3 separate regions of the Homo sapiens genome follow, and all the other regions are linked to region 2. Evidence: fine-mapped expression QTL. A gene starts in region 2. Each other region holds a variant in brackets. All regions are shown on one strand. Distances are between the middles of the regions.

Evidence for each region.
Region 1: its variant is fine-mapped to the expression of COPRS in whole blood (TOPMed, PIP 0.94).
Region 3: its variant is fine-mapped to the expression of COPRS in whole blood (TOPMed, PIP above 0.99).

The regions. Positions count from the first base shown.
Region 1 is chr17:32,240,924-32,251,553 of GRCh38, forward strand. It overlaps LOC124903979 (a long non-coding RNA gene), which reads left to right and starts at 2,561. Exons shown (of 2, transcript XR_007065709.1): 1 at 2,561-3,130. RefSeq lists a silencer at 1-161. The variant C/T (reference allele first, on the strand shown) is at 5,441.
Region 2 is chr17:31,853,431-31,864,060 of GRCh38, forward strand. COPRS (coordinator of PRMT5 and differentiation stimulator) reads right to left here and starts at 5,814. Exons shown (of 4, transcript NM_018405.4): 1 at 5,671-5,814; 2 at 3,369-3,435. The coding sequence starts at 5,769. UTP6 (UTP6 small subunit processome component) reads right to left here. Exons shown (of 19, transcript NM_018428.3): 19 at 7,474-10,086. The coding sequence ends at 9,929. RefSeq lists an enhancer at 4,801-5,475 and a silencer at 5,535-5,964.
Region 3 is chr17:31,878,516-31,889,145 of GRCh38, forward strand. UTP6 (UTP6 small subunit processome component) reads right to left here. Exons shown (of 19, transcript NM_018428.3): 8 at 8,721-8,798; 9 at 7,465-7,546; 10 at 5,909-5,990; 11 at 2,058-2,239; 12 at 187-266. Among named protein-coding and RNA genes, the nearest start is that of UTP6, 18 kb to the right of the region's middle. The variant T/C (reference allele first, on the strand shown) is at 4,203.

The DNA of each region.
Region 1 (10,630 bases), 390 kb after region 2:
TCAGGACCATGGAAAGCCCAAAGCCAAGGGACCTGGGAAGTCAGCCAAGGACGCTTGCCTGGGTGTCTCCTGGCTGGTTTCTCTGTGCTGTGGAGCCACCTATGTTTAGAACCTCTTGCCGCGCTCCCTCTGCTGAGCTTATATTTATGCTAGATCAAATGTTTAAACTGCTTTTCTCTTTGTGGATCACAAATTTTAGAACAGAAAATGCGGGTTCCGGAGGGTGTGAGAGACAGGGACAACCATATGTATTGCTTCAGTAGATGCTTCAGAGAAAGAAGACACTTAGTTCTCTAGTTGTTCACCCAACCCAATACGGTTTCTGCTCCTTAAGCTACATTCCTATAAAGATTAGCTTTCAGCTGCTACCACCAAGAAACAGTTCAAGTGCTGCTTATGTTGTATTTTAACTAAAGATCTCAAGAACAAAAAGAAATCCCTAGATGCTGACATTCCAAGCAAACTTAGGTCAGGGGTGGAGGCGGGGAATTGACAGATAAAGATTTCGGTGAGCAGGCAGTTCTCACCTTAGGTGAGTTCACAGTGTGCAGGGGTGCTTGGTGGGATGGTATCCATTTCTTTCATCTTTGAGAGATTTAAGGGGTGCTTACAATAAGGGGATACCCAATCTGCCTATCCTGACACATTCAACACGAGTTCTTAAATTCTCAGCTAATGGGTTGGATTCCCATTCATTTTATAGGCAGGATGGCTCTATTTGGATGACCCTTCTCAAAAAGTAAAAACAACAAAGGCAAATAAATCCTTCCGAGAGAGAGTATGAGGCTATGGCAGACAAGGTAAAATGCCTGTCACAGGAGATAAATTATTTTGCTCATTAACAAGTCATTTGTCCTTTGATTTCTCAAAGCCCTAGAGAAACAGGAGCTCAGCTGACAATGACCTGAGGGGACCCCTACAGTGCTTCAAACAGTGGATGGAGGAGGAGATGCCTTCCTGGTTAAGAAATTATCCCTGAGCCCTTGTAGAGGACAGTCCAGCACAGGAAATTCTGGAACTACAAGATGAAAATGTGTGCCAGCATGCTTCTACTTTCAGGGTACAGTCTGAGGCCCTAGGGAGGAGGAGTTCCTCAAGTGCTTTGACCTCTTGCCAGGACAAAGACGGAGAAGTATTTAGAAGCATCTGAATTTGTTAGCTCTTCAGTTTTCCTCCTCCACTCCCTACCCTGCACACAGAGCCTCAGAAGGACAGACCAGCTTCACCCCCTTACCAGCAATTACTGAAGAATCACACCCCACCCACCTCAGGATCACTGATCTCCTTCCTATATGGGAACCCTGACCCTTGGAGAAAAACCGCTGACCTACAAACTCCCCACATTCACCTAGAGAGCACCAGAGCAGAGTTCTGAGTGAGATAAGCAGTCCTTTAGGGGGATCTGTTTTTCCAGCTCTCATTTTTCCCCCCTTATTTCCTTTATCTCTAGAATTCTAAGAGCTGTACTGTTCATTGTTTCTACCCATCATTATTAAGGGAGAGATATGGAAACATTCCCATGGTAACAGTTTCATCTCAAAATATCTGAATGCTATTAGCTGCCTTTCCACTCCAGGGAAAAGATGAGATTTTTTTTTAAAAAAAGAAATCTTTATTCTCAGGATATAGTTGACAGGTCCTCTCCACACTGCAGGGAGGCCTGCCCAGATCAGTGGAGATGGGAAAGGGCTCATAAAGCCAAATTTGTTTCTTAGCTGACTTCACTTCCTGAACATTTCAAAAACTTATTATTACATGGTTCTGACACCGACCCAGAGAATTGCTGGTGGAAGTACTGATGAAAACACCAACATCTCTGGGGGAAGTCATCAACTGGGAGCATATGAGATGGGCCAGCACAGACTTGGCTCAAAGACCCACAGACCACACTGTGTTACTGGAGAGCAACAGGTTTGAACAAACTCAGAGGTATGCGCTGGTTGCCATCAGAAAGCTGGGGAGAGAAAATGGGATAGGAAGCGTTGTACCTCATGTTCATGACACGCTTTATGGCTGGCCAAGGGCTTTTCCTATTGAAATGGGATGATGGAGGAGATAGGACACATTTATCTTAAACATGCATCTTAATTATCTATTGCTGGCGGGGTGTGGTGGCTCACACCTGGAATCCCAGCACTTTGGGAGGCCAAAGCGGGTGGATCACTTGAGCCCAGGAGTTCGAGACCAGCCTGAGCAACATGGTCTCTATCCATCTCTACAAAAAGTTAAAAAATTAGCCGGGTATGGGACTGCACGCCTGTAGTCCCAGCTACTCAGGGGGCTGAGGTGAGAGGATCTCATGAGCTGAGGAAGCAGAGGTTGCAGTGAGTTGAGATTGTGCCACTGCTCTCTAGCCTGAGTGACACAGCAAGACCCTATCTCAAAAAAATATATTTTATATATATAATATATATAATATTATGATATATATTATATAAAAATTATATATATAATATATAATATATGATATATCATATATGATATATGATATATCATATATCATATATATCATATATCATATATATAGCTGCATGACAAATTATTCCAAAACTTGGCAGCTTAAAATAAACATGTTATCTCACAGTCTCTGTGGGTCAGGAATTTGGGAGCAATTTAGCTGGGTGATTCTGGCTCCAGGTCACTAATTAGATTGTATTCAGACTGTCAACCAGGGCTGCAGTCACCTGAAGGCTTGACTGGGGCTGGGAGATCCCTTTCCAAGATAGCACATTAGCCATTGGCAGGAGGCCTCAGCTCCTCACCACATGGGCCTCTCTTCACAGCGCTGCTTGAATGACATGGCAGTTGGCTGACCCTGGAGCAAGTGACCCAAGACATAGAAAACAGGAGGAAGCTGCACTGTCTTGTTTGACCTAGTCTCAGAGGGCACACATCATTGCTTCTGCCATATTCTGTTCTATAGAAGCATGTCACTAAGTCCAGCACACATGTTTGGGGAGGGGAATCGAGCCACCTCTTGAAAGGAGAAGTATCAAGGACTCTGTGAACATGTTTTAGGACTATGATGTCATGGCAGTTATGAAAACTAATGTGTCAGTGCTGTATGTACTGATATGAAGCAATCTCCAAGATGTATCTTCAGTGACAACAGCATGATGCAGAACGCTAGGTAAGTCTGGATACTATTTGCAGTTTTAAAAAGGGAGGAGGGAGCCAGGCGCGGTGGCTCACGCCTGTAATCCCAGCACTTTGGGAGGCCAAGGCGGGTGGATCACAAGGTCAGGAGATTGAGACCATCCTGACTCACACAGTGAAACCCCGTCTCTACTAAAGAAACACAAAAAATTAGCCAGATGTGGTGGCGGGCACCTGTAGTCCCAGCTACTTGGGAGGCTGAGGCAGGAGAATGGCCTGAACCCGGGAGGTGGAGCTTGCGGTGAGCCAAGATCGCAACACTGCACTCCGGCCTGGGCAACAGAGCGAGACTCTGTCTCAAAAATAAATAAATTAATTAATTAATTAATAAAAAAGGGAGGAGGGATAAATATGCAGTTATGCATAGACTACCTCTCAGAGGACATACAATAAACTGGCCTCAAGGAGGAGGGCTGGGGACAGGTGGGAGAGAGATTTGTTTTCTGTACCTTTTGGATTTTATTTGAGCAAGTATTACTCTTTGATAATAAAATTTAATTTCAAAAATAGATTAAAATAACATAGAAATAAATAACATTGTTGAAAGAACTTAGAATGACCAGTTTGAGATGGAATTTTTTTTTTTTTGAGGTGGGGTTTCACTCTTGCCCAGCAGGGAGTACAGTGACACGATCATAGTTCACTGCAGCCTCGCCCTCTCAGGCTCAAGCACTCCTCCCACCTCAGCCTCCCAAGAAGCTGGGACTACAGGCACATGCCACCACACCTGACGAATTTTAAAAAATTTTTAGAAGAGGTGAGGTCTTGCTAGATTGCCCAGGCTCAAATTCCTGAGTTAAAGCAGTCCTCCTGCCTCAGCCTCCCAAAGTGCTGGGATTACAGGCATAAGCCATTGTGCACCTGGTTGGAATTCACTTTTTAAAGCTATTGGGGCCAGCAGTGAGCTATGATTGTGCCTGGGTGACAGAGCAAGACCCTGTCTTGAGGAAAAGAAAAGAATAAAACTATCAGGGTAGATGATTTTAGGGGATTGGTTTGCTTGCTTTCTTGCTTGTTTTCTTGGAAGCAAGTGTACTTTCTTGGCAGGCATGTTTTGAGACAGGAGGCTATAAGCAAGATGTTGAAGGAAAACAGACCAAGCTCTCTGAAGGAGAGCACTTGGAAGAGAATCTCGTCCAGTTCTCATCCCGTGCATGCCCACCTACCTGGACTTGCACATATCTGCTATATTTTCCCTTCTGTGACTACAGAGAAACTGTCCACAGGCAGCTCCTTCACTTACGCATTAGAGTCTGGCCTCTGTCGTCTGCATCCTCCAGCAATTCCCCCTGCCTTTCTTGGATCTTTGATTTGTGTTCCTCTGGATTTATTAACAAACAAACAAACAAACATTACTTCTCCCATCTGAAAAAAAAAATCTCTTCGTCCGCATTTCTCTGTTCCCTTTATAGCTTGCTTGAAAGAGTTTCCTCAGTGTCTCCTATTCTGTCTCTTTTCAGAACCTGAGATATAGCTCACACTCCATAAAATTCACCTTTTTAGCATGTACAATTCAGTGGTTTTTAGTACAGTCACAAACTTGTGCAACCGTCACCACTATCTCATTTCATCACTCCCGAAAGAAACTCTGTACCCATTAGCAGTCACTCCCCAATCCTCCTTTCTCCGAACCCCTGGTAATCACTAATCTACTTTCTGTCTCTACGGATTTGCCTCTTCTAAATATTTTATATCAATGGAATCATACAATATGTGGATCTTTGTGACTAGCTCCTTTCAGATTGCATAACGTTTTCAAGGTTCATCTGTATGAACCTTGTATCAGCATGTATCAGCATTCCATTCCTTTTCATGGATGAGTAATGTTTCATTGTATGGAAATATCACATTTTGTTTATCGTTCATCAATTTATGGATATTTGGGCCGCACGGTGACTCACGCCTGTAATCCCAGCACTTTGGGAGGCCAAGGCAGGCGGATCACTTGGGGCTGGAGTTCGAGACCAGCCTGGCCAACATGGCAAAACCCTGTCTCTACTAAAAATACAAAATTAGCCAGGTGTGGTGGTGCATGCTTGTGATTCTAGCTACTGGGGAAGCTGAGGCATGAGAATCACTTGGACCCAGGAGGTGGAGGTTGCAGTGAGCCGAGATCACCTGGGCAACAGAACAAGACTCTGTCTCAAAAAAAAAAAAATTATGGATATTTTGGGTTGTTTCCGCCTTTTCATTATTATCAATAATGCTGCTACAAACATTCATATACAAGTTTTTGTATGGGCATATGTTTTCAATTTTCTTTTCTTTTTTTATGACAGGGTTT[C/T]ACTCTGTTGCCCAGGCTGCAGTACAGTGGCATGATCTCGGCTCACTGCAACCTCTGCCTCCCAGGCTCACACGATCCTTCCAGTTCAGCCTCCCCAGTAACTGGGACCACAGGCACAGGCCACCACACCCAGCTTTTTTATTCTTTCTTTCTTTCTTTCTTTTTTGCAGTTTTGCTCTTGTTACCCAGGCTGGAGTGCAATGGTGCAATCTCGGCTCATCGCAACCTCCACCTCCCAGGTTCAAGCGATTCTCCTGCCTCAGCCTCCCAAGTAGCTGGGATTACAGGCATGTGCCACCATGCCTGGCTAAGTTTTTTTGTATTTTTAGTAGAGACAGGGTTTCTCCATGTTGGTCAGGCTGGTCTTGAACTCCCGACCTCAGGTGATCAGCCCGCCTCAGCCTCCCAAAGTGCCAGGATTACAGGTGTGAACCACTGTGCCCGGCTAGTCTTTCTTTCTTTTCCTTTTTTTTTTTTTTTTTTGTTTTTTTTTTTTTGGCGGAAACACAGTCTTGCCATGTTGCCCAGGCTGATCTCCAACTCCTGGGCTCAAGCGATCCTCCCTCCTTGGTCTCCCAAAGTGCTGGGATTAGGCGTGAGCCACCACACCAGGCCTCGGATTTTCTATACATAAGATCATGTCATCTGCAATTAGAGATAGATTTATTCCTTCCTTTCCAAAGTATATGTCTTTTATTTATTTTTCTTTTTTAATTGCCCGGCCTAGACCCCCCAGTACAATGTTAAGTACAAACGACAAGAGCAGACATCCTTGTTCTGTTCTTGATCTTAGGGGGAAAACATTCAGCCTTTTCAGTAGTAAGTTGTCGGTTAGCTGTGGCTTTTCTCTCTCTCTCTTTTTTTTTTGAGACAGGGTCTTGCTCTGTCATCCAGCCTGGAGTGCAGTGGTGTGATCTTCGTTTACTGCAACCTCCTCCTCCTGGGCTCAAGCAAGCCTCCCAGCCCCCAAGTGTCTGGGATCACAGGCACACACCACCACGCCCGGCTAATTCTGTTTTTTTTTTTTTTTTTCTTTTCGGAGACGAAGTCTTGCTGTGTCATCCAGGCTACAGTACAGTGGTGCAATCTCGGCTCACTGCAACCTCCCCCTCCCGGGTTCAAGCAATTCTCTTGTCTCAGCCTCCCAAATAGCTGGGATTACAGGCACGTGCCACCATGCCCAGCTAATTTTTGTATTTTTAGTAGAGACAGGGTTTTGCTATGTTGGCCAGGCTGGTCTTGAACTCCTGACCTCAAGCGATCCGCCCGCCTCGGCCTCCCAAAGTGCTGGGATTATAGGGGTGAGCCACCGCACGCAGCCTCCGGCTAATGTTTGTATTTTTTAGTAGACAGGGTTTCACCATGTTGCCCAGGCTGAGCTGTGGGTCTTTCATAGATGTCTTTTATCAGATTAAACCAATTCTCTTCCTAGTTTGTTGAGTGTTTTATTTATAATGAAGCAACATTGGATTTTATCAAGTGCTTTTTTTCATTTACTGAAATGATCATTTGTTTTTTGTCCTTTATTCCATTCATACAGTGTGTGTATTACATTGATTTTTGTATGATGAACCAATCTTGCATTTCTGGGAAAATCCCATTTGGTCATGGTATATACTCCTTTTTATATATTGTTAGATTCAGTTTGCTTGTATTTTGTTGAGGATGTTTGCATCTATAGCATAAGGTGTATCATTGTGTAGTTTTCTTTTTTTTTTTTTTTTTTTTTTTGAGACGGAGTCTCGTTCTGTCGCCCAGGCGGGAGTGCTGTGGCGCGATCTCCGCTCACTGCAAGCTCCGCCTTCCGGGTTCACGCCATTCTCCTGCCTCAGCCTCCCAAGTAGCTGGGACTACAGGCGCCCGCCACTGCGCCCGGCTAATTTTTTGTATTTTTAGTAGAGACGGGGTTTCACCGTGTTAGCCAGGATGGTCTCGATCTCCTGACCTCGTGATCCGCCCGCCTCGGCCTCCCAAAGTGCTGGGATTACAGGCGTGAGCCACCGCGCCCGGCCGGTGTAGTTTTCTTGTGATGTCTCTGTCTAGTTTTGTTATCCAAGTAACACTTTTCTTTTTTTTTCTGAGATGGAGTCTCACTCTATCTCCCAGGCTGGAGTGCAGTGGCGTGATCTTGGCTCACTGCAAGCTCCACCTCCCTGGTTCACACCATTCTCCTGCCTCAGCCTCCTGAGTAGCTGGGACTACAGGCGCCTGCCACCACACCCGGCTAATTTTTCGTATTTTTAGTAGAGACAGCGTTTCACTGTGTTAGCCAGGATGGTCTCCATCTCCTGACCTCGTGATCCACCTGCCTCGGCCTCCCAAGATGCTGGGATTACAGGTGTGAGCCACCGTGCCCGGCCCCAAGTAACACTTTTCATGGTAATACTGGCCTCACAGAATGAGTTGGGAAGTGTTCTCCCCTTTTCTATTTTTTGGAAGAATTTTTGAAGAGATTGATGTTCCTATTCTGTCTTGAGCCACTCCTCCCAGCTTGTTACCTCCCCTACCATACCGAAACTGCTCTTGTAAAGGTCTCCAATGTCCTCCACATTGCCAAATTCAACAATCAGTTCTCAGCCATCGTCTTACCACTCAGCAAGAGCATCTGATCTCAGCCATCGTCTTACCCTCAGCAACAGCATCTGATCTCAGCCATTATCTTACCCTCAGCAACAGCATCTGACACATTTCCTTTCTCCTCGGAACACTGTCTGCTTCTGGCCTCCACAATCTCCTGGTTTTCTTTCTGCCTCACTGGCCACTATTTTCCGGGCTTCTTTGCTGGATTGTCTTCCTCTATCAGATATCTTAATGGTGAAGAGACACAGGGCTGAGTCCTTGACACCTTTTTTCTGTCTTTTCTCAGATTTTTTGTAATTTTATTTCTCTCCTAAATTTAAACACCAACTATATGCTGAAGCCTCCCAAATTTAGAGCCCAAATATGGTCTCTCTCTTTATCTTTAGATTTATATATCCTCTGCCTATTAGACACCTTACCTTGGATGCTGAATGTATATCTCAAACTTAACATGTCCAAAATTAAACTTTTGATCTATTCCACCAAAATCTGCTATGCCCACCATCTTCCCCATCATTATTAACCACAACTTTAGCTTTTCAGTTGATCAGTCCAAAAATATCCGAGTCATCCTTATTGGATACTTTCTTTCCCTCACTCCCTACAGTCATTCTATTAGCAAATCCTGTTGGGCCTACCTTCAAGATAATCAGAGAGTGGCCACCTCTCACCACCGTCATGATCCAATTATCTCCCTAATCTTTCTCTAGCTGGGATTGATGGACTAGGCTTCTACTGGTCTCCCTCCTTCCCCCTTTGCCCACCTTCAGGCTGTTCCTGGGACAGCAACCACCTCAGAGTTTCTGTCATAAATAAATGTTGAATTTTGTCAGATGATTTTCTGCATCTATTGAGATTATCGTATAGTTTTCCTTCTTCAGTCTGTTAATATGGTAAATAACATAGTTTTTGGTTCTGTTTTGTTTTAGATGGGATCCCTGCCTCCCAGGCTGGAGTGCAGTGGTGCAATCATGGCTCACTGCAGCCTTGATCTCGGCTCACTGCAGCCTCGATCACCCAGGCTAAAGCAATCCTCCCACCTCAATCTCCCAAGTAACTGGTACTATGGGCGTGTGCCACAACGCCTAGCTGACATTTTAGAAACAAAATCTCATTATAAGGTCTCATAATGTTGCCCAGGCTGGTCTCAAATTCCTGAGCTCAAGCAGTCTCCCTGCCTCAGCCTCCCAAAGTGCTAGGATTACAGGCATGAACCACCACGCCCAGCCAACATTGATTTACAAATGTTAAACCAACTTGCTGTGCTGAGATTAACCCCATTTGGTCACGATGTATTATCCTATTCATATATGTTAGAGGTGACTTGCCAACATTTTAAGAATGTCTGAACCTATGTTCATGAGGGATATTGGTCTGAAGTTTTCTTTTCTTAAAATGTCTCAAGTGTTTGTTGAGTGTATAAATGAGAGCCTGTTGGTCCAAGGGGGGTGGGTGGGAGAGTGTATTAAGAAGGAAAAAAATAGACTGGGTGCGGTGGCTCACGCCTGTAATCCTAGCACTTTGGGAGGCTGAGGCAAGCGGATCACCTGAGGTCGGGAGTTCGAGACCAGCCTGACTGACATGGAGAAACCCCCGTCTCTACTAAAAATACAAAATTAGCCAGGTGTGGTGGCGCATGTCTGTAATTCCAGCTACTCAGGAGGCTGAGGCAGGAGAATCGCTTGAACCTGGGAGGCGGAGGTTGCGATGAGCCTAGATCGCACCATTGCACTCCAGCCTAGGCAATAAGAGTGAAACTCCATCTCAAAAAAAAAAAAGAAGAAGAAGAAGGAAAAAAAATAGCACATTTATAGGGCTGTTTCCAAAGCCCTTTTCACATACCATTTAATTGTCATAACCAAGAGGTGTAGATATTACTATCATGCCCATTATAAGAGAACTAAGACTCAAGGAGTTTAAGGAACCTGTCCCAGACCTAGCTAACCAGAAGGACTGGGACTTGAACCCATGCCCTCTGTCTGCAGATGCCATGTTCGAGGTTAGTACCCAGTGAGTGAAGACCTTTAGGGACAGGCAGAAGGGCTCCTTTCAGCTTTGATTATGCTTGTGACCATTTCCCAAGGGAAGGAGCAGAGCTTCTGCCATGAACATGATACAAGTAATTCCATGTTTCTTACTTACAGCATCTTAAGAAAACTCCAGCATGGCAGAATGAGCACTCCACCTGCAGATGCCCAGGAGAGCCTGAGACTTATTTTTAGCCAGAATAGGAAAATGCCAAATATCTTCTAGGAGAGTTGGCAGCTGGAGGGCTGCTGATACAGCTGTGTTTATATAAGCTGGTGCAGAGGGGAGAATGGTGGTTGCAAAGGAGGCAGGAGGTGCTTAATCCACCTATACACTTGCTGAGGTTTTCTTGGGAAGTTCTGGTCAGGAGTTACTGCTCAGGAGAGAGCGTCATGCAGACAGTCTGGAGATTGCCAGGAGCATAGGTGCAACTGGCTTCCTTGAGTCAGAGCATTTGTCAAAGCCGCCCTTAAATGACCTGTCCACTGGTCGTTGGCCTCTTCCCACCCTATTATCCAGGGGTAAATAAAAGAACAGAAGCTCTTTCAAATGGTGCCATTTTATTTATTTTTTGAGACAGGG
Region 2 (10,630 bases):
AATGCAATGGCACCATCTCGGCTCACTGCAACCTCTACCTCCCAGGTTCAAGCAATTCTCTGCCTCAGCCTCCTGAGCAGCTGGGATTACAAGCGCCCGCCACCACGCCCAGCTAATTTTTTTGTATTTTTAGTAGAGACGGGGTTTCACCATCTTGGCCAGGCTGGTCTTGAACCCCTGACCTTGTGATCCACCCGCCTCGGCCTCCCAAAGTGCTGGGATTACAGGCGTAAGCCACTGTGCCCGGTTGTTTTTGCTCTTTTATTCCTCCCTTCAGCCTCAAAGAGCATGTTAGAGGTGAGCACAGGGACAAAGGGGAGCAGGGGCACTGCAGGCAGAAGACCAGAACCCATCTAATCACAATGGGCAGCACCTAGTGCCTCCCTCTGACATCAGGGAGGCCGGAAGGTACATTTTCAAAAGGCCTCACAATAACGGAGGAAAGACTGGGGAAAGATAATGGATTTCCGAGCACATAGTGCTTTGGTGATGCCAGGTCCCAGGAGAGAAGGCAATCAGCCTAAAACAGCCATGCTCTTAATACTGGAACAACAGTAACAGTGATAAGCAATAAAGTGATAGTTCAGAGCAAGGGGTCTAAAGCCAGACTGTCTGATTTCAAATCCGTGTTTTGTCAATTACCAAACATCGGACTGGGCCGGGCACGGTAGCTCACCCTTGTAAACCTAGCACTTTGGGAGGCCAAGGTGGGTGGACTGCTTGAGCTCAGGAGTTCAAGGCCAGCCTGAACAATGTCGCAAACCCTGTCTCTACAAAAAATTCAAAAAATTTAGCTGGGTGCAGTGGCATGCACCTGTAATCCCAGCTACTCAAGAGGCTGAGGTGGGAGGATCGCTTGAACCTGGGAGGTGGAGGCTGCAGTGAGCCAAGATCGTGCCATTGCACAGAGTGAGACCCTGTCTCCAAAAAAAAAAAAAAAAAAAAAAAAAAAAGTGTGATTGAGCTGAAATTTACTTAACTAGTTCCATAACATAAATATAGAATTACCATATGACCCAGCAATCCCAGTCCTAAACATATACCCAAAAGAACTGAAAACAGCTGTTCAAATAAAACAAGGATACTCACAGCAGCACTATTTACAATCACCAAAAGGTAGACACAACATCAAATGTCCATCAATGGATGAATGGAAAAACAAAATGTGGTATATGCATATGATGGAATTATTCAGCCATAAAAAGGAATGCAGTGCTGATACATGCTACGGCATGGATGCACCTTGAAAATACGCTAAGTGGAAGAAGCCAGACACAAAAGGCCACATATTGTTATGATTCCCTTTACAGGCAACTCACATTTGCCTATCCAGAACAGATAAACCCACAGAGACAGAAAGCAAATTAGTGGTTGCCAAGAGCTCAGAGAAGGAAGGAATGGAGAATGACTACTTGGTGAGCACAGGGTTTCCTTTTAGGGTGATGAAAAGATTCTGGAACTAGGTAGTGGTGATGGTTGCACAACACTGCCATTGTGCTAAAAGGCTACTGAATTATATGCGTTAAAATGGTTACATGGTAAATTTAGGTTATGCATCTTTTACCACAATTTTTAAATTGTTTTTATTTAACTGTTCTGTGCCTCAACTTCCACATCTGTAAAATGAAGATAGGGTTGTTGTGAGAGTTAAAAGAAAAAAAAAGGCCAGGCACGGTGGCTCATGCCTGTAATCCCAGCACTTTGGGAGGCCGAGGTGGGCGGATCACCTGAGGTCAGGAGTTTGAGACCAGCCTGGCCAACATGGTGAAAGCCCCTCTCCACTAAAAATACAAAAATTAGGCCGGGAGCAGTGGCTCACGCCTGTAATCCCAGCACTTTGGGTGGCCAAGGAGGGCAGATCACGAGGTCAGGAGATCGAGACCATCCTAACAAGGTAAAATCCTATCTCTACTAAAAACACAAAAAATTAGCCAGGCGTGGTGGCGGGTGCCTGTGGTCCCAGCTACTCGGGAGGCTGAGGCAGGAGAATGGTGTGAACCCAGGGGGCAGAGTTTGCAGTGAGCCGAGATAGTGCCACTGCCTGGGAGACAGAGCGAGACTCCGTCTCAAAAAATAAATAAATAAATAAATAAATAAATACAAAAATTAGCCAGGCGATATGGTGCACGCCTGTAATCCCAGCTACTCAGGAGGCTGAGGCACGAGAATCACTTGAACCCGGGAGACAGAGGTTGCAGTGAGCCAAGATTGCGACACTGCACTCCAGCCTGGGTGACAGAGTGAGACTCCATCTCAAAAAAAAAAAAGAAAAAGAAAAAAAGGGGCCAAGCGTGGTAGCTCACACCTGTAATCCCAGCACTCTGAGAGGCTGAGGCAGATGGATCAGGTGAGGTCAGGAGTTCGAGACCAGCCTGGCTAACATGGTGAAACCCCATCTCTACTAAAAATACAAAAATTAGCTGGGCATGGTGGCATATGCCTGTAATCCAGCTACTTGGGAGGCTGAGGTAGGAGAATGCTTGAATCCAGGAGGCAGAGGTTGCAGTGAGCCAAGATTGTGCCATTGCACTCCAGCCTGGGCAACAAGAGCAAAACTCCCTCTCAAAAAAAAAAAAAAACGGCAGGGGGCTGGGCACAGTGGCTCATGCCTTTGTAATCCCAGCACTTTGGGAGCGTGGGCTCACAGTAATCCCAGCACTTTGGGAGGCCTAGGTGGGCAGATCACTTGAGATCAGGAGTTCGAGACCAGCCTGGCCAACATAGTAAAACCCCATAGCTACTAAAAATACAAAAGTTAGCTGGGTGTGGTGGCGCGTGCCTGTAGTTCCAGCTACTCGGGAGGCTGAGGCAGGAGAATTGCTTTAACCTGGGAAGCGGAGGTTGCGGTGAGCTGACATCGTGCCACTGTACTCCAGCCTGGTGACACAGCGAGACTCCGTTTCAAAAAAAAAAGATATTTTGAGAGAGAACACATTCACGTAACTTTCAGTATACTGGCATAATTGTTCTATATTACTATTGTTATTAATCACATATGCATAATTTATAAGTTAAACCATATCAGAAATAGTATATATAGGAGGAAAAAAAAGCAGTTTCAGGCATCCATTGGGGCGGGGGGGTCTTAGAATGTATCCCCTAGGAATAAGGTGAGACTGCTGTACTATTTTCACCGTTTCAAGCTGTTTCTCTCGGTAGAAGGATGGATTTGAACATAAGAAAAGTTCAGGACTTCCCTTAAGGAAGCTCCAAGCAAGGCTTCCAAAGGAGGTTACTGTTCAACTGGGCAGAGAAGGCCACTAAGCAGCAGAGAGGACTGGCTAAAAGAGAAGGTAAATGAGACAGAGGGACTATTCCTCTCCTCACATCCTTGGTCTCCCCAACTTCCGTCTCTGCCATCTACTTGCCTAGTCGATCCATAGCCTTCTCAGTCTCTCTCTCCTGACTGGAGTGGTCAGCTGTAGCAAAGCCAGCCTGCAGGAAGAAGAAATGATTACCAAGGACTTGGGTATCTGGGGTATGCCCAGTATTCAGCTATTGCATCTCAACCCCACCCACTCTTCCATACTCCCCTTGGTGATGCAGGGCTGGGACTCTGCCACCCACATTTCTACTTTGCCCTGTTAAACTGAGCAAGGCTGGAGGGAGATGGGCCTTGTTCCTTCCTATTCATGTAGGCATCACCTCATGACACTTCACCGTGGCAGCAGGAATGCCTTCCTATAGTGGCCACAGAATCCAGTATACAGTTCTGCGAACTCTTGCAGAGCCAGTCTTATCACTGCACCTTCTCTTTAGAGGTCTGGGTCTCAGGACTCTCCTCCAAGCTCAGAGACCCCCTACCATCAGCTGGGGCAGTGCCTTCTCCTTAAAGGTTGGAATTTCAGCTCTGCAGAGCCTTTTCCCTAAGCTTTTAAATTTTAATCAACTTCATCTCTTTGTTCCTTCAGCCATAGGTTGGTAGCTGTTCCCTGCGGTTGCCACCCCCAGGTACACGTTTTACCTTTTCAGTTACTTAACAACTTTATAGCTAGTAAACAACTCTATCAAATTCTCTGTTTCCTCACCAACACACTGAGGTGGGGGAAGCTTTATAATTCCTCTGCAATGCTGAGCACTGAAGGCAGTATTTCTAATCTAACTGAAAATCTTCCCGCACAGCCAACCAAATGCTTCTCTGCTCCCATCACTCAGAAGTTCCTGAAACCCTATGACCTCCAAGACCTCTTTCTAATGAATCACGAAATGTTCCCTGCCTGCATAAAAGACCTGATTTTGATCCCAGCTCTGCCATCCATTCAGAGTGTGACCTTGAACACATCACTTCAATTACTGTGCCTGAGTTTTCTTCTCCAGAAATTAGGGGTGACTGTTCTGACCCTGCAGGGGACTTATGATTAGACACCATTTATGAAAACACCTGGCATGTGGCAAGAATGTAACATTTCTTGAATTTAAATTCATCTTTTCTGCTACATCTAAACTGTACTCGGCACCTGCTCCAATCAGCATTCATTATCTAGTCATGTCTGGGTTTAATAATTCAGTTCCACTCCCTGTAGTTAGTGACAACCTCTGGTCACTGCCGCCCAAGGAGAAGTCAGACCTCTCACCTAAACCACTGCCACGGCCTCCTAACCACCTTCCCATCCAGCCATCTGGCCCAGCCTTACAGAATTAATCACTACTCTGCTCAAAACCTTCAACAGCCCTCCACTGAGAGAGCACAAAATTAGCCATGGCATTCGCACGTCCCCTCTTCTCCCACTCCCATCAACCTGTTGAGCATAGTTCTCTGCATGCTCTGAGACCCAACTCCAGGCCATGTGCCCTGCACTTTCTCATCTCCACGCCTCTGCAGACACCACCAGCCTCTCACCTTGATCCTTTCCTGCTATGCCCTGACAAAATTAGTCCCATTCTATTCTGCACTCCAAAGTAATTTTCTTTGTAAGTGTCGCTGCATTTTTCATATCTTACTTTGGCTAAGTACCATCTTTGAGGCATCATTCATCCAGTCGGTATGTCTATCTCCTGTGCCAGGCACTATGCTAGGCTGTGCAAACAGCCCTAACAGAGGGTTCCTACCTTCAAGCCGCTCAGCACCTAGCCGGTACAGACTGTAAACAAGGACAGGTAAGAACTGTAATAACGGTCTGTAACGTTCTCGGGAAAACCAGGAGCTGTCTAGCTTACATGAAAACAAGTTTCTGGAAACCCTGCGTCAAACAGGGCCTTTCTGGTTTCAGTAAGGAGAAGGGGGAGCGCGCATGTGACATCTGGGGCTCAGGGTTAGCTGGCATCCCCACCAACGGACAGAGGTCCACAGGTCTGTAAAGTCAAGTCCCTCTCCTCGCCGCCCTCACCTGGCCCTCGCCCAGGCTCCTGGCAGCGGGCCCCGGCTCTCGGTCACCAGCGTCACCTCCCATTTACCAAATCCGCAGCGGCGCCCAGCGGGCGGACAGCCGTCTCTGCTGACCCAGAGCGCCCACCCACGCCCTCGGCTTTCCCCGCCCCGCAGCCCCGCGGCCCCGCGGCCTGGCCGTTTTCAGCTCGAGCGCGAGCCCAAACAGCGCTCCGTGTCGCGGGGCGGCCCGAGGCCGGCCAGAGGCGCTTCCCCGGCCCCGCGGCCCCCGCCCAGCCCGGCCCCGCGACTTCCCGCCCCAGGCTGCGGCTGGCTGTTGCTCCTGGCCCCCACGCGGCGCTCACCTCCGGGCTGGGGGGCGCCCCCCGCGCGCTAGGCAGCGGCGGGCCCCGAGACGGCTCCGCGGCCCCCTGCGCCTGGGCCCCGGCGGCCTGAAGGTCCATGCCCTGCGGCCCGCGGCTGGTCGCCCTGGACGCCGTGGGCCACGTGACGCGCCGGCCCGGCTGCCCGCCCGAGGATCCGCCGCAGAAGCGCCAATCAGCCTGGGGAGGGGGTGGGTACCGGCCAAGAGGGCGGGGCGCGGGGGTGTCACGAGCAAGCGGGGGCGGGGCGGCGCAGGGGGCGGGGCGCGCGGCCTCGCGGAGCCCGCCCCTCCCTCCCAGCGCGAAATCTGAAACAATCTCGGAGACGGATTTTGGAAACTCCTCTCGGTGCATATCCTAAGGCTGCACGACTAGCTGCGTGTGAAACGCCAAGCGTACCCTACTCGGCCACTCGGGGTGTGCTCCAGCTTCAAAACCCCGCGTGGGTAAGACACATGAGCAACCCAGTGACCTCCACCTTGAGCTAATGATCGTCTTTGAAGTTAATCCATTAGAAACCAAGATAGATGATTAAGACACAAACTGCAATATGCAGTGGACACAGAATACAGGCCACGACGCTTACTCATAATAATCCTGAACATTCGGGATTCCTGTATTTCCATGCTCAACGCCTGATACCGACAACCTAATTATTTCCCATTTTGCCTCGAAAGGTGGCTTCTGGGGATAGGCAGGGCCTGAGCTGGGAACAGCCCAACTGGAAAGACAGCCTTCCCTGCCTTCCCCACAGTGCCTAACCTCTAATAACAAACCAGCTCAAGGTGTGCTAATCACGTCAACATCAGGACATGAGACCCTCTTCCTTCATCCCCCTCAAAGACTGTGTTGTTTGTACAACACAAAAGGCATTTGAAAAAATTTAGCATAAAACTGACACACAATATTCGATATTATTTTTGTTCTATATGTAGATGTTCCTACACAGGAGTCAGTATCCCCAAGGCTAACTGCCTCTAGGTCAGCAATGTCCAATAGAACGTTCTTTAATGGTGGAAGTGGAAATGAAAGTTCTACTATCTGTACTGTCCAATATAGTAACCATATACCTACTGAGCACTTGAAATGTGGCCAATGTGAATAAATTGAATAATTCTAATAAATTTAAATTGCTACATGTGCCTTGGAGCTACTGTTTCTAACAGTGCAACTCTAGGTGTACTAGCTAGATGTGTTTTCATAACCTGCAATATTGAGAATCAGATACAGGGATGTGATGACCCCAGGTGACCACCCTTATAGCCTTGTGTTAAGGAGACTACCACTATCCTCTTTGCTCCCTAATCTACATATCTCTTTCGTAAAATTAAAGTGCCAAATAAGATTAAGAATGTTAAACATCCCAGGACTTAAGGGACAGGAAAAAGAGGAATTTTTTTCTTATTTTAAAACAAATGACAAGAAAACAGGGGCTGGCCGCGGTGGCTCACTCCTGTAATTCCAGCACTTTGGGAGGCCGAGGCAGGCAGATCACTTGAGGTCAGTTCAAGGCTATCCTGGCCAACATGGTGAAACCCCATCTCTACTAAAAATACAAAAATTAGCCAGGCGTGGTGGCACACACCCATAATCCCAGCTACTCGGGAGGCTGAGGCAGGAGAATCACTTGAGCCCGGGAGGTGGAGGGTGCAGTGAGCAGAGATTGCCCCACAGCACTCCAGCCTGGGCGACAGAGTGAGACTTGGTCTAAAAAAAAAAAAAACCAGAAAGAAAAAGAAAACAGTACAAAAGCTTAAAATAAAAATGTTCTAAAGTAGACTCTAATACTCATAGAAATTTAATATATAATAAAGGTAACATCACAAATCAGCAGAGAGAAACATAACTGCCCAAATAGTGTTGGCAAAATTAACTGCTTGGGGAAAAAGAGTTGTTCTCAGCACCAGGAAGAGCTTCCAAAGCATTTTAAAAACAGACATCACACATACACACACAAAATACCTCTGGGCATCAAAAATCGCCACAAAAGGTGCCTATAATCCCAGCTACTTGGGAGGCTTTGGCAGGGAGAACTGTTTGAACCTAGGAGGCAGAGGTTGCAGTAAGACCACACCACTGCACTCCAGCCTGGACCACAGAGCAAGACTCTGTCTCAAAAAAAAAAAATCACCACAAACAAGGCTGGGGGTAAAATTATTTGCAACAAATGAGAAACAAGATATTAATATTCTGAATATGTTTTTAAAAACTCTGGCCAGGCACAATGGCTCATGCCTATAATACCAGCACTTTGGGAGGTTGAGGTAGGAGGATTGTTTGAGCCCAACTGTTTAAGAGACCAGCCCTGGCAACATAGCAAGACCAGTCTCTACAAAAAAAAATTTAAATTAACCAGGCATGGTGGTGTGCACCTGCAGTCCCAGCTACTCAAGAGGCTGAGGTGGGAGGATCTCTTGAGCCCAGAAGTTAAGGCTGTAGTGAGCCATGATCACACCACTGCACTCTAGCCTAGGTGACAAAGCAAGAACTTGTCCAATTTAAAAAAAAAAATTAACTCATAAATTAGTAAGAAAAAAAATTTTTAAATAGTCTAAGGATGTAAAAAGATGAGAAACATAAAATACACTAACTTCACTAATATCAAAGTATGGTAAAACAATGACATATCACATTTCACCTATAAAATGGTAAAAATAAAAGATATAATTACACCAGTACAGGTAAGGGTACTGACACTTTCATGTATTGCTTGAAAGAAGGAGCAAACCAGCAATACATATCAGTATTCTCTAAAAGCAGTATCCTTTGATCCAGTAATTCCACTGTCGGATGTCAATCTCCTAAGGAAATGGCCAGGGATGTGAACAAAGATTGACAAGAATCTTCATCAACAGCATTTATCTAATTTTTAAAAAAATTAGAAATGACAGTCCAGGCCAGGCTTAGTGGTTCACGCCTGTAATCCCAACACTTTGGGAGGCCAAGGCGGGTGGATCATGAGGTCAGGAGTTCGCAACCAGCCTGGCCAATATGATGAAACCCCCGCACTACTAAAAATACAAAAATTGGCTGGGCGCGGTGGCGGGTGCCTGTAATCCCACCCAGCTGCTCGGGAGGCTGAGCCAGAACCACTTGAACCCGGGAGGTGGAGGTTGCAGTGAGCCGAGATGGAGCCACTGCACTCCAGCCTGGATGACAGAGCAAGGCTCCATCTCAAAAAAAAAAAGACAGTCTAACCAGAGGATTAGTAAAATATATTATGGCTCATTTTTACAATGTAATGTTACGAATTCATTAAATGTTTTTAAGGCTATTTAATGACACAGAAAAACAATACTAAGTGAAACGTAACAATAAGCTACACTGAAAGCTTCTCCCAGTGACAGGATGCTTTTTTTTACCACACTATTCTATTTCCTCCATATTTTCCAGAACAAATGCATACCACGTATCTTTTATAATGAGAATAAACCAACAAAACTGTACTTTCTCCTTTTTTTTTTTCCTTGAGAAGGAGTTTCGCTCTTCTTACCCAGGATGGAGTAGCAATGGCATGATCTCGGCTCACTGCAACCTCCGTCTCCCAGGTTCAAGCAATTCTCCTGCCTCAGCCTCCCAAGCAGCTGGGATTACAGGCACCCACCACCACACCTGGCTAATTTTTGTATTTTTAGTAGAGACGGGGTTTCACCATGTTGGCCAGGCTAGTCTCAAACTCCTGACCTCAGGTGATCCGCCTGCCTCAGCCTTCCCAAAGTGCTGGGATTACAGGCGTTGAGTCACCATGCCTGGCCACTTTCTCCTTCATTTTAACTGGCTCTTAGGTCGAGATTAGAGATACTCATGCTTGACCTGGGATAATTTTAAAAAAACCCAGTCGTATGCTATCCATGTATTTTGGGAAACATTTAGGACCTGTGGAAGATCGGGCCTCAACATTAAATCAGCAATTCTCTTTACTGGAATCAGATTAGCACATCAAACTGAGCAGTGTCATGCACCTATAATCCCAGCTACTCAGGAGTCTGAGGTGAGAAGGTCACTTGAGTCCAGGAGTTCAAGACCAGCCAGGGCAACAGAGCAAGACCCAGTCTCAATCATAAAAATTTTTTAATTTTTAAAAAGATTTAACAAGTTAACATAAAATTAAAGTGTGTCTCAAAACCAGACAGCCATCTTGTCTGCCATCACTGAGCAAATTACAGATGGACTCAATACAAATTTGCCCACGGGGCTTGCTTGCAATACTATTTCACAAAGCTGACTGTATTCTTCATCTTCATAAATGGCCAGTCTGATGCATAGCATGTTTAGCTACAAATGCCTCTGCTGACTCTCCCTGCAACATTTTCATCGCTCGCCAGTAGATCTGTCCACAGTTCTCAGGTCTACCAAGGGGGTGGTTCAATTCTTCTTTCATATAATCCATCCAAAGATCTTTTAAAAAAAAAACATACAATTAGATAACTGACAGAGTGTTATTAGGTAACCTTATTAAATATCAATTCAACTCAAGATTTCTAAGAAACTTAACTTCTCATTGTTACTTCCCTAGGACGCTTTGTTTAACAATACCTCTCTTAGCTTCTTTAAAGTATAGTGGCAGGTTTTGGTTTGTTTTTGTGTGTTTTTTTCTTTTTTGAGACAGGGTCTCACTGTGTTGCCCCGGCTAGAGTGTAGTAGCGGGAACATGGCTTACTACAGTCTCAACCTCCTGAGTTCAAGTGACCCTCCTGCCTCAGCCTCCAGGGCAGCTGGGAACACAGGCACACCACCATATTAGGCTAATTTTTTTATTTTTTGTAGAAACAGGGTTTCACTATATTGCCCAGGCTAGTCTTGAACTCCTGGGCTCAAGCAATCCTTCTACCTTGGCCTTCCAAAGTGCTGGGATTACAGGCGTGAGCCACTGTGCCTCATCAGTTTTGTTTTTTTGTTTTTTGTTTTTTTTCCCAGTAGAAAACCTTCACATCAATCATAA
Region 3 (10,630 bases), 25 kb after region 2:
CCCCTCCTAACCTGGCGGCAAACCAGACTCAGACCTTTAGAATGTCACGTCACCCACAAGGAGAGAGAGAGTGGCTAAACATAAAAGTTCTCAGAAACTGTGCCAGACACCAAAAGATCTGTGCTTCTGTTCTTTCAGAAGGCAGTCACTATCTAGTCAACCACTGTAACCATGTAACAACCTCACCTTCCCTCTAAGGAACCCACTATTTGACTTCTTAGTAAATCTTTCCAAGCAAAAGGTGATGTAACACTTCCACATGGCCTCTGGAAAAGTCAGAAAGATTGTGTTGATCAGATCACTTAGTTCAACATTCATCACATCAAAGTTATTAAAAGATAAGGAAAAAAACAGTCATCCTACACCTTTACTTCAAGGGGAAAACTCTCCTCTGAAGAAGAGTTTAAATCAGCCTGATTTTAAGAAGTGTTATGCTGACTACAGCCAATCAAACACCTCAAATATTGGGGGAAAACAACTGAGTAACAGCTTAAATATAAAAATTGAAAGCCTTATCCAGGTTATATATCCCCTCTGCCTTTATTCTACATTATTACAAAATAAAAATTAAATCACTTTCCAAAGATAATTAAGGGCGAGGCAGTGGTTCACATCTGTAATCCCATCACTTTGGGAGGCTGAGGCAGGCTGATCACCTGAAGTCAGGAGTTCAAGACCAGCCTGGCCAACGTGGTGAAACCTCATCTCTACTAAAAATACAAAAATCCATGGGGCATGGTGGCATGCACCTGTAATCCCAGCTACTCGGGAGGCTGAGGCAGGAGAATTGCTTAAACCTGGGAGGAAGAGGTTGTAGTAACCCGAGATCGTGTCACTGTACTCCAGCCTGGGCAACAGCGTGAGACTCTGTCTCAAAAAGATAATTAAGGATGTCGGTAATCCTAGCAAGTTGGGAGGCCGAGGCATGCAGATCACTTGATTCTAGCAGTTCAAGACCAGCCTGGGCAACATGGCAAAACTCCATCTCTACAAAAAATACATTAAAATTGGCCTGGCGTGGAGGCATGCGCCTGTAGACCCAGCTACTCAGGGGGTTGAGGCGGGAGGATTGCTTCAACCCAGGAGGCAGAGGTTGGAGTGAGCTGAAATTGCGCCACTGCACTCCAGCCTGGGTGACACAGCAGGATCCTGTCTCAAAAAAAAACATAGATAATTAAGAAATAATAATTGAAGAATCTTAGAAATTATTTCCTAAGCTTCCCCCAAAATAGATGAACATAAATACCACTACTATGGAGGAAGGTCATAAAAGTTAGAAAGCCAAGACCAAGTTAGAAAGCCAGGCACGGCCAAATGCGGTGGCTCATGCGTGTAATCCCAGCACTTTAGGAGGCCAAAGTGAGCAAACCACCTGAGGTCAGGAGTTCAAGACCAGCCTGGCCAACATGGTGAAACTCCGTCTGTACTAAAAATACAAAAATTAGCCAGGCATCGTGGCACACGCCTGTAATCCCAGCTACTCGGGAGGATGAGGCAGGACAATCGCTTGAACCTGGGAGGTGGAGGCTGCAGTGAGCCGAGATCACACCATTGCACTCCAGCCTGGGCAACAGAGTGAGACTCTGTCTCAAAAAAAAACAAAAAACAAAAAAAACCCAGGCACGGTGGCTCACGCCTGTAATCCTGTAACCCTAGCACTTTGGGAGACCAAGGCAAGTAGATCGCCTGAGCTCAGGAGTTCGAGACCAGTCTGGGCAACACAGTGAAACCCCGTCTCTACTAAAATACAAAAAAATTAGCTGGGCATGGTGGCGGGCACCCGTAGTCCCAGCTATTTGGGAGGCTGAGGCAGGAGAATTGCTTGAACCCGGGAGGTGGAGGTTGCAGTGAGCCGAAATCGAGCCACTGAACTCCAGCCAGGGTGACAGAACAAGACTCTGCCTCCCAATAAAAAAAAAAAAAAAAGGCCAGGCTCATCGTAAACTATGTTACAGAGACATCCCCAATATTGATTTTGGCAATGGGAACAGGAGCTTAAGTTTCACAATCAGGGATACTATTCCTTCTATATCACACCATGGTTTGGTGAAGTTCACCTGTTGGCAGAGTCTTCACTGCCTCTTCATACACAGCACAGCACCTCTCCTCCTTCCGGCCGACCTCCACTGCTTTGGCTTGTTTCGTTGTAGGCTGCTCTTCTGTCTGTGACTCAATCTCTAATTCTCGCCTTGCCACATAATCCCAAGTGAGAGGATCATCTGTGTGTAGAGCCTGAAGGCTGAAAAATACAATTTACTGTTATCAATCCCACAACAAGAAACTGACTCAGAATATCAGAGAAACAGTTACCTGTGCTTAAAAAATCTACACAGGACATCCCTGTAACAACTGCAGTACCATAAAAACTATTTCCCAGGCCGGGCCCGGTGGCTCACGCCACTGGGAGACCAGCACTTTGGGAGTCTGAGGTGGGTGGATCACCTGAGGTCGGGAGTTCGAGACCAGCCTGACCAATATGGTGAAACCCCATCTCTACTAAAAATACAAAAATAAGCCAGGCATGATGGCATGTGACTGTAGTCCCAGCTACTAGAGAGGCTGAGACAGGAGAATTGCTTGAACCCAGGAGGCAGAAGTTGCAGTGAGTCGAGATCGCATCACTCCAGCATGGGCGACAGAGCGAGACTCTGTCTCAAAAAAAAAAAAAATATATTTCCCAACAGGCTCTCCAGAATATGTTCACTAACTGTAGAAATTTTGTCAATGGATCAGAATTGTCCCACTTTTTCACTTTTTTTTTTTTTTTTTTTGAGCCAGAATCTCATTGCCACCAAGGCTGGAGTGCAGTGGCACAATCTCAGTTCGCTGCAACCCCCATCTCCTGGATTCAAGCAATTCTCCTGCCTCAGCCTTCCAAGTAGCTGGAATTACAGACGCATACCACCACGCCCAGCTAATTTTTGTATTTCTTTGGGAGAGATGAGTTTTCACCATGTTGGCCAGACTGGTCTCAAACTCTTGACCTCAAGTGATCCTCCTGCCTTGGGCTCCCAAAGTGCTGGGTGGGATTACAGTGTGAGCCACTGCACCTGGCCAGAGCTGTCCCACATTTATTGAGTTTCAGAATATTTCAGGTATCATTCACAAATGTTAACTTTCAAGTTAGCTCTCAAAGTCAAATCAGCAGTTATCTGTGACAACACAAGACTCCAAGAGACCTGAAGAACTTTTTTTTGTTTTTGAGATAGGGTCTGTCACCCAGGCTGGAGTGCAGTGGTGCCATCATGGCTCACTGCAGCCTCCACCTCCCAGGCTCAGGTGATCCTCCCACCTCAGCCTCCCATGTAGCTGGTACTACAAGTGCATGCCACCATACCCAGCTAATTTTGGTAGTTTTATTGTACAGAGTTTTGCCATGTTGCCCAGGATGGTCTCCAACTCCTGGGTGCTCAAGCAATAGTCCATCCCAAAGTGTTGGGATTACAGCCCCTGTGCCCAGCCTAAAGAACTTTATTATAGCTGAGCTCTTCATTTTCGTTTGTGTGTGTGTGTGTGTTTGTGTGTGTGTTTTAAGACAGAGTTTCTCTCTTGTTGCCCAAGCTGAAGTGCAGTGGCACGATCTCAACTCACTATAACCTCCGCCTCCTGGGTTCAAGCGATTCTCCTGCCTCAGCCTCCGGAGTACCTGGGATTACAGGCATGTGACACCACACCCAGCTAATTTTTGTATTTTTAGTAGAGGCGGGGTTTCACCATGTTGGCCAGACTGGTCTCAAACTCCTGACCTCAGGTGATCCGCCCGCCTCGGCCTTCCCAAGTGCTGGGATTACAGGCATGAGCCACTGCATCTGTTTTTTTTTTTTGGAGACAGAGTCTTCTCTGTCACCAGGATGGAGTGCAGTGGGACGATCTCAGCTCACTGCAACCTCCACCTTCCAGGTTCAAGCGATTCTCCTGCCTCAGCCTCCTGAGTAGCTGGGATTACAGGTGCATGCCATCACACCAAGCTGATTTTTCTATTTTTAGTAGAGACGGGGTTTCACCATGTTGGCCAGGATGATCTCAATCTCTTGACCTCAAGTGATCCGCCCACCTCGGCCTCCCGAAGTGCTGAGATTACAGGCGTAAGCCACCACACCCAGCCCAGGGTTCTTCATTTTCTAAATAATAGAGAAAAAGCACAACCTACTCCTCTCTCAAAACCCTGAAGATATCCAAACAACAGATTGATTCAAGTTCCA[T/C]TTCCCCTCCTGTCAAAGGAAGAGGTGTTACCAAAAAACGGAAGTACCCACAAGGTAGGCTAAAAATATTTTTTTTTTCTTTTTTTGAGACAGGGTCTCACTCTGTCACCCAGGCTGGGGTGCAGTGATGCAATAACAGCTCACGGCAGCCTCAACCTCACAGGCTCAAGGGATCCTCCCACCTCAGCCCCGCAAGTAGCTGGGACTACAGGCACATGTCACCATACCCAACTAATTTTATTGTTATTTTTTGTAAAAACAGGTCTCGCCATGTTGCCGAAGCTTACAAATAATTGTTAAACCATATAATCAGACATTAAAGAATAAAATTACCAGCCAGGTGTAATGGCTCACACCTGTAATCCTTGCACTTTGGGAGGCTAAGGCAGGAGGATCACTTGAGCTCAGGAATTCAAGATCAACCTGGGCAACATAGTGAGACCTCATCTCTATAATTAAAAACATAAATAAATAAAAATATAATAAAGAAATAAAAAGAATAAAATTACCAGCACTCAACTATAAACATATGAGTATAACTCTCATTTTATGGATAAATGCCAGGAAAATAGAATTTAGAATTTTATATAAGCTTTAGATTTTTTTTTTTTTTTTGAGATGGAATTTTGCTCTTGTTTCCCAGGCTGGAGTGCAATGGCACAATCTTGGCTCACTGCAACCTCCACCTCCCGGCTTCAAGTGATTCTCCTGCCTCAGCCTCCCGAGTAGCTGGGATTACAGGTATGCGCCACCACGCCCGACTAATTTTGTATTTTTAGTAGAAACGTGGTTTCTCCATGTTGGTCAGGCTGGTCTCAAACTCTCGACCTCAGGTGATCCATGCATCTCGGCCTCCCAAAGTGCCGGGATTACAGGCTTAAGCCACCGTGCCTGGCTAGATTTTTTTTTTTTATTGAATAAACTATTTCCCCCAGTAAGTGAATCAAAGAACTCAATCAGGAAGATACTTTTTTTCTGAGACACGGTCTCACTCTGTGACCCAGACAGGAGTGGAGTGGCAGGATCACAGTTCACTCCAGCCTCAACCTCCCAGACTCAGGTGATCTTCCCACCTCAGCCTCCAGAGTAGGTAGGACCACAGGCATGCACCACCACACCTAGCTTATTTTTTGTAGAGACAGGGTTTCACCGTGTTGCCTAGGGTGGTCTCAAACCCCTGAGCTCAAGGGATCCACCTGCCTTGGCCTCCCAAAGTACTGGGATCCCAAAGTGTGAGCTACTACACTGGGCCAGGAAATTTTTTTTTAACGTAATATGATATTAATTTTTTTTTTTTTTTGAGATGGAGTTTTGCTTGTCACCCAGGCTGGAGTGCAATTGTGGGATCTTGGCTCACTGCAACCTCCGCCTCCCAGGTTCAAGCGAGTCTCCTGGCTCAGCCTCCCAAGTAGCTGGGATTACAGGCATGCACTACCACGCCCAACTAATTTTGTATTTTTAGTAGAGACGGGGTTTCACCATGTTGGTCAAGCTGGTCTCAAACTCCTGACCTCTGGTGATCCACCCACCTCAGTCTCCCAAAGTGCTGGGATTACAGGTGTGAGCCACTGCACCCGGCCAATATTAGCTTTTATTCCAGGGATTTAGTGTGGTATCTTCTTTCTCTTCTACTAAATATCCAACCTCAAACCCTTAATCTCAAGATCAGAAATAGATATATTCACCTTTCTACTAACTTTACTTACTCATCATAAATCTCTTTTTGTAGATCTTTGGCAAAGTCAAATAGCTGTGCAATCGAAAGCAGTGACACGTGAAATTCTGCACCTAAATTTAAAAAGCAGGGGAGGGGAAGTTTATTGCCAATAAGAATCACTTTACTTTAAAAGTAGCATTCTTTTCATGTACTGGAGTTAATCTTCTTGTTTTTTGAAATGAGAAATAGAATAAAATAGAAGAAAAGTCATCCCATAGTCCCCTCACCCCAGTGTCCCCCTACTCAAGCAAAGCTATTGTTAATCTTTGGAGTATTCATAAAAAAAGAACTAATTTTCAACTCCCCACGATTTAATTACTCCATGAGAACTTACTGAGGATTGGTGCAATGGCTCACACCAGTTATGCCATCACTTTGGGAGGCCAAGGCAGGAGGATCACTTGAGCTCAGGAGTTCAAGACTAGCCCGGACAACATGGTGAAACCTCATCTCTACTACAAGTACAAAAACTAGCCAGGCATAGAGGTCCATGCCCAGCTACTCAGGAGGCTGAAATGGGAGAATCACCTGAGCCCATGAAGTCGAGGCTACAGTGAGCCATAATTGTACCACTGCACTCCTGCGTGGGTGACAGAGTAAGACCCTGTCTCAAAAAAAAAACATGGAAGGATAAATGAGTACACGCTGGGTACAGTATACACTGCTCGTTGATGGGTGCACCAAAATCTCAGACATCACCACTAAACCTGTTCCCCAAAAACCTATTGACATTTTTATTTTTTTGAGATGAAGTCTCGCTCTGTTGCCCAGGCGCTCTCAGCTCACTGCAACCTCCACCTCCCGGGTTCAAGCAATTCTCCTGCCTCGGCCTCCCAAGTAGCTGGGATTACAGGCGCCCACCACCACACCCAGCTAATTTTTGTATTTTTAGTAGAAATGGGGTTTCACCATGTGGGCCAGGCTGGTCGCAAACTCCTGACCTCAGGTGATCCACCTGCCTTGGCCTCCCAAAGTGCTGGGATTACAGGCATGAGCCACCATACCCGGCCCAAACCTATTAAAATTTAAGGGAAAAAAATGGGAGTAGAATATAAATTTTAAAAAGAGACTTATGCCAGGCATGGTGGCTCACGCCTGTAATCCCAACACTTTGGGAGGCCAAGGCGGGCAGGTCACAAGGTCAGGAGTACGAGACCAGCCTAGCCAACATAGTGAAACTACGTCTCTACTAAAAATACAAAAATTAGCTGGGCAGGGTGGCACACACCTATAGTCCCAGCTACTTGGGAGGCTGAGGCAGGAGAATCACTTGAACCCAGGAAGCAGAGGTTGTGGTGAGCCGAGATCACGCCAATGCACTCCAGCCTGGGCAACAGATCAAGACTCCATCTCAAAAAATAAATAAGTTACTGAAATGTTCAATTATAGCCTAGGAAAAATAAGTATTTTCTGAAAGAAACAGGACACTATTCCTACAGAGTTTTATACACATTCTAATGGAAAATTTCAAAACTAGCTAAAGATCTTCATTAAGAAAAGAATGTTTCACTTTCCTACCAAAAATAATGTTCAAAAGATACCTACCTTTAATTATGCTTACAGAATTTTTGTAGATGATCCATGCCAACTCGCCCTTAAGGATTTCTTCAGAATAATCAGGATTCTCCTAAAGAGTGTTATATCAAACGTAACTTAACAGGTAGTACAAGGAGGAAAAGCACTAGGACGAAAATTAACAATCCTAGACTACCTGTGCCATATGACCACTGGTAAATCATGTCTCTCTCTCCGGGCCAGTTCCCTCACTTGTAAAGTGTGCAGCTTGAACAAGATCACTGACCTTCCAACTGTGTTCTCTGAGGCTCCAAGAGTGGTGGCAAGATCACATGGCTTAAGGCCTCACTCTCCATTTGGACCAAAACAGGTCAGATTTTACATGTCTTGTTTGCGCTTCTCTGTAACATTTTATTTGAATAAAAAAGTCCTGGCCTGGCGTGGTGACTCATGCCTATAATCCTAGCACTTTGGGAAGCCGAGGCAGGCGGATCACTTGAGATCAGGAGTTCATGACCAGCCTGGCCAACATGGCAAAACCCCATCTCTACTAGAAATACAAAAATTAGCCGGGAGTGGTGGCGGGCACCTGTAATCCCAGCTACTTCGGAGGCTGTGGCAGGAGAATCACTTGAACCCGGGAGGCGGAGGTTGCAGTGAGCCAAGATCGTGCCAGTGCACTCCAGCCTGGGCGACAAGGAGCAACACTCCGTCTGAGAAAAAAGTTCTAAGCTGGAAACCACAATAACAGACAATAGCAAAGTTTCTTCTCAGCTCTAACATTCTAAATCTTTTAATTATTCTGTCATATAAAAAATTATATAAAAAGGGAAAGAAAGAAGGCCAGGAAACCACACATTTCACAACCTTTCTCAAGCTCCTTGAATCCATTAATATATCACTTTATGAGATCATACAGCGTTAAAGAATAGTATTTGGCTATTCTGTAAGTAACAATTTTGAGAACCACATTAATTAGTCCAAATATCTATTTTTATAGCATAAAGCTTCATTTTCCTAACTAAGTCCATTTATAAGTAACACTAACTCATCTGGAAGTTTCAAAATGTAACAACATTAAACATTAAAGCTTGAACCCGGAGGCAGAGGTTGCAGTGAGCCAAGATGGTGCCACTGCACTCCAGCCTGTGTGACAGACCGAGACTCCGTCTCAAAAAAAAAGAAAAAAAAAGAAAAATATATTCCAAATATTTTCTCTTACTCCTAAGCAGGCTCAAAATGTTATACATCGTTAGCAAGTGAGAATAAAATAATTAGAACCTTACCACATCCATACTGGCTTTTTCAAATTCTTCCTTCTCCTTCCTCAGTTTTTCAGCATGCATCAGCTCCATCCTAAAGTACTACAGAAGAGAAATAAACTGAAAATCTTTGGAGATGCTTTTTAAAATTTTTTTGAGACAGGGTCTTGCTCTGTCACCCAAGCTGGAGTGCACTGGTGATGACAGCTCATTTCGGCCATGAATTCCTGCACTCAAGTGATCCCCTTGCCTCAGCTTCCTGAGTAGCTAGGATTAGAGGTGCATTCCATCACACTCAGATAATTTTTTTATTTTTATTTTTTGTAGAGACAGGATCTTGCTACGTTGCTGCCTGGCCTGAAACAACTGACCTCAAGTGATCCTCCTGCCTCAGCCTCCCAAAGTGCTGGGATTAAAGGCATGAGCCACCACACCCAGGCTTAACTTTCATTTAAGAATTAAATAGCAGGCTGGGCACGGTGGCTCATGCCTGTAATCCCAGCACTTTGGGAGGCCAGGCGGGCGGATCACTTGAGGTCAGGAGTTCGAGACCAGCCTGCCCAACATGGTAAAACCCCATCTCTACTAAAAATACAAAAGTTAGCGGGGCATGGTGGTGCACACCTATAATCCCAGCTACTTCGGGGGCTGAGGCAGGAGAATCGTTTGAACCCCGGGCGTGGAGGTTGCAGTGAGCCAAGAACACACCATTGCACTCCTGCCTGAGCAACAAGAGTGAGACTCCATCTCAAAAAAAAAAAAAAAAAAAAAAAGAATTAAATAGCAGTTTCTCTTTTATCCTGACAAATGACTCAGAAAACAGTGCAGCTTCCAATACATTCTTTCTCTTATTTGGGATTTTATCTAAAGCTTGGCCCTCAAATGTTCTAAGGCACCATCCATAAGGGAGTAAGTCCCCGAAGAGAGAAAGGAAGTACTACCAGGTATCTATCTCAAGAAAAGGAGACAGAAAGAACATGGAGAAAAGAGGAAGACAAGGCAAAGAAGCCAGAAGAGGGCTTCTTTGGAGAACCAAGGGAACAAGAAAAAAAAATAAAAACAAAAGTATAAAGAGGCTAAATCTGGCTCCCAGCTAAAAAAATGTTAGAGTCTAGTTCCCTATTCCTTCCAACCACAGGAAGGAGGCGGGGGTTCCAACCTCTCAACTAACTTAGAAGCTGCAGTGTCAACACCTACAAAAAGATGTTTTTCCCTGGCCGGGCATGGTGGTTCACACCTGTAATCCCACCACTTTCAGAGGCTGAGGCAGGCAGATCACCTGAGTTCGGGAGTTTGAGACCAGCCTGCCCAACAGGGCGAAACTCCATCTCTACTAAAAATACAAAAATTAGCCGGACGTGGGATCCCACCTACTCAGGAGGCTGAGGCAGGAGAATTGCTTGAACCCAGGAGGTAAAGGTTGCAATGAGCCAAGACCGGGCCACTACACTCCAGCCTGGGAAACAGAACGAGACTCCATCTCAAAAAATAAAAAAGATGTTTGTCCTTACCCACACCTCCACACTTATTCCTAGCCTCCATAAATTGAAGCCTTTTTTATTTAATAAAGAATACATGGGCCGGGCGCAGTGGCTCACGCCTGTAATCCCAGCACTTTGGGAGGTGGAGGCGGGCGGATGACCAGGTCAGGAAATCGAGATCATCCTGGCTAACATGGTAAAACCCCATCCCTAATAAAAAATACAAAAATTTAGCCAGGCATGGTGGCAGGCACCTGTAGTCCCAGCTACTCGGAAGGCTGAGGCAGGAGAATGGTGTGAACCCAGGAGGCAGAGCTTGCAGTGAGCCGAGACCGTGCCACTGCACTCCAGCCTGGGCAACAGAGCAAGACTGTCTCAAAAAAAAAAAGTGAAACCAGCCTGGCCAACATGGCAAAACCCCGCCTCTACTAAAAATACAAAAAAAATAGCCAG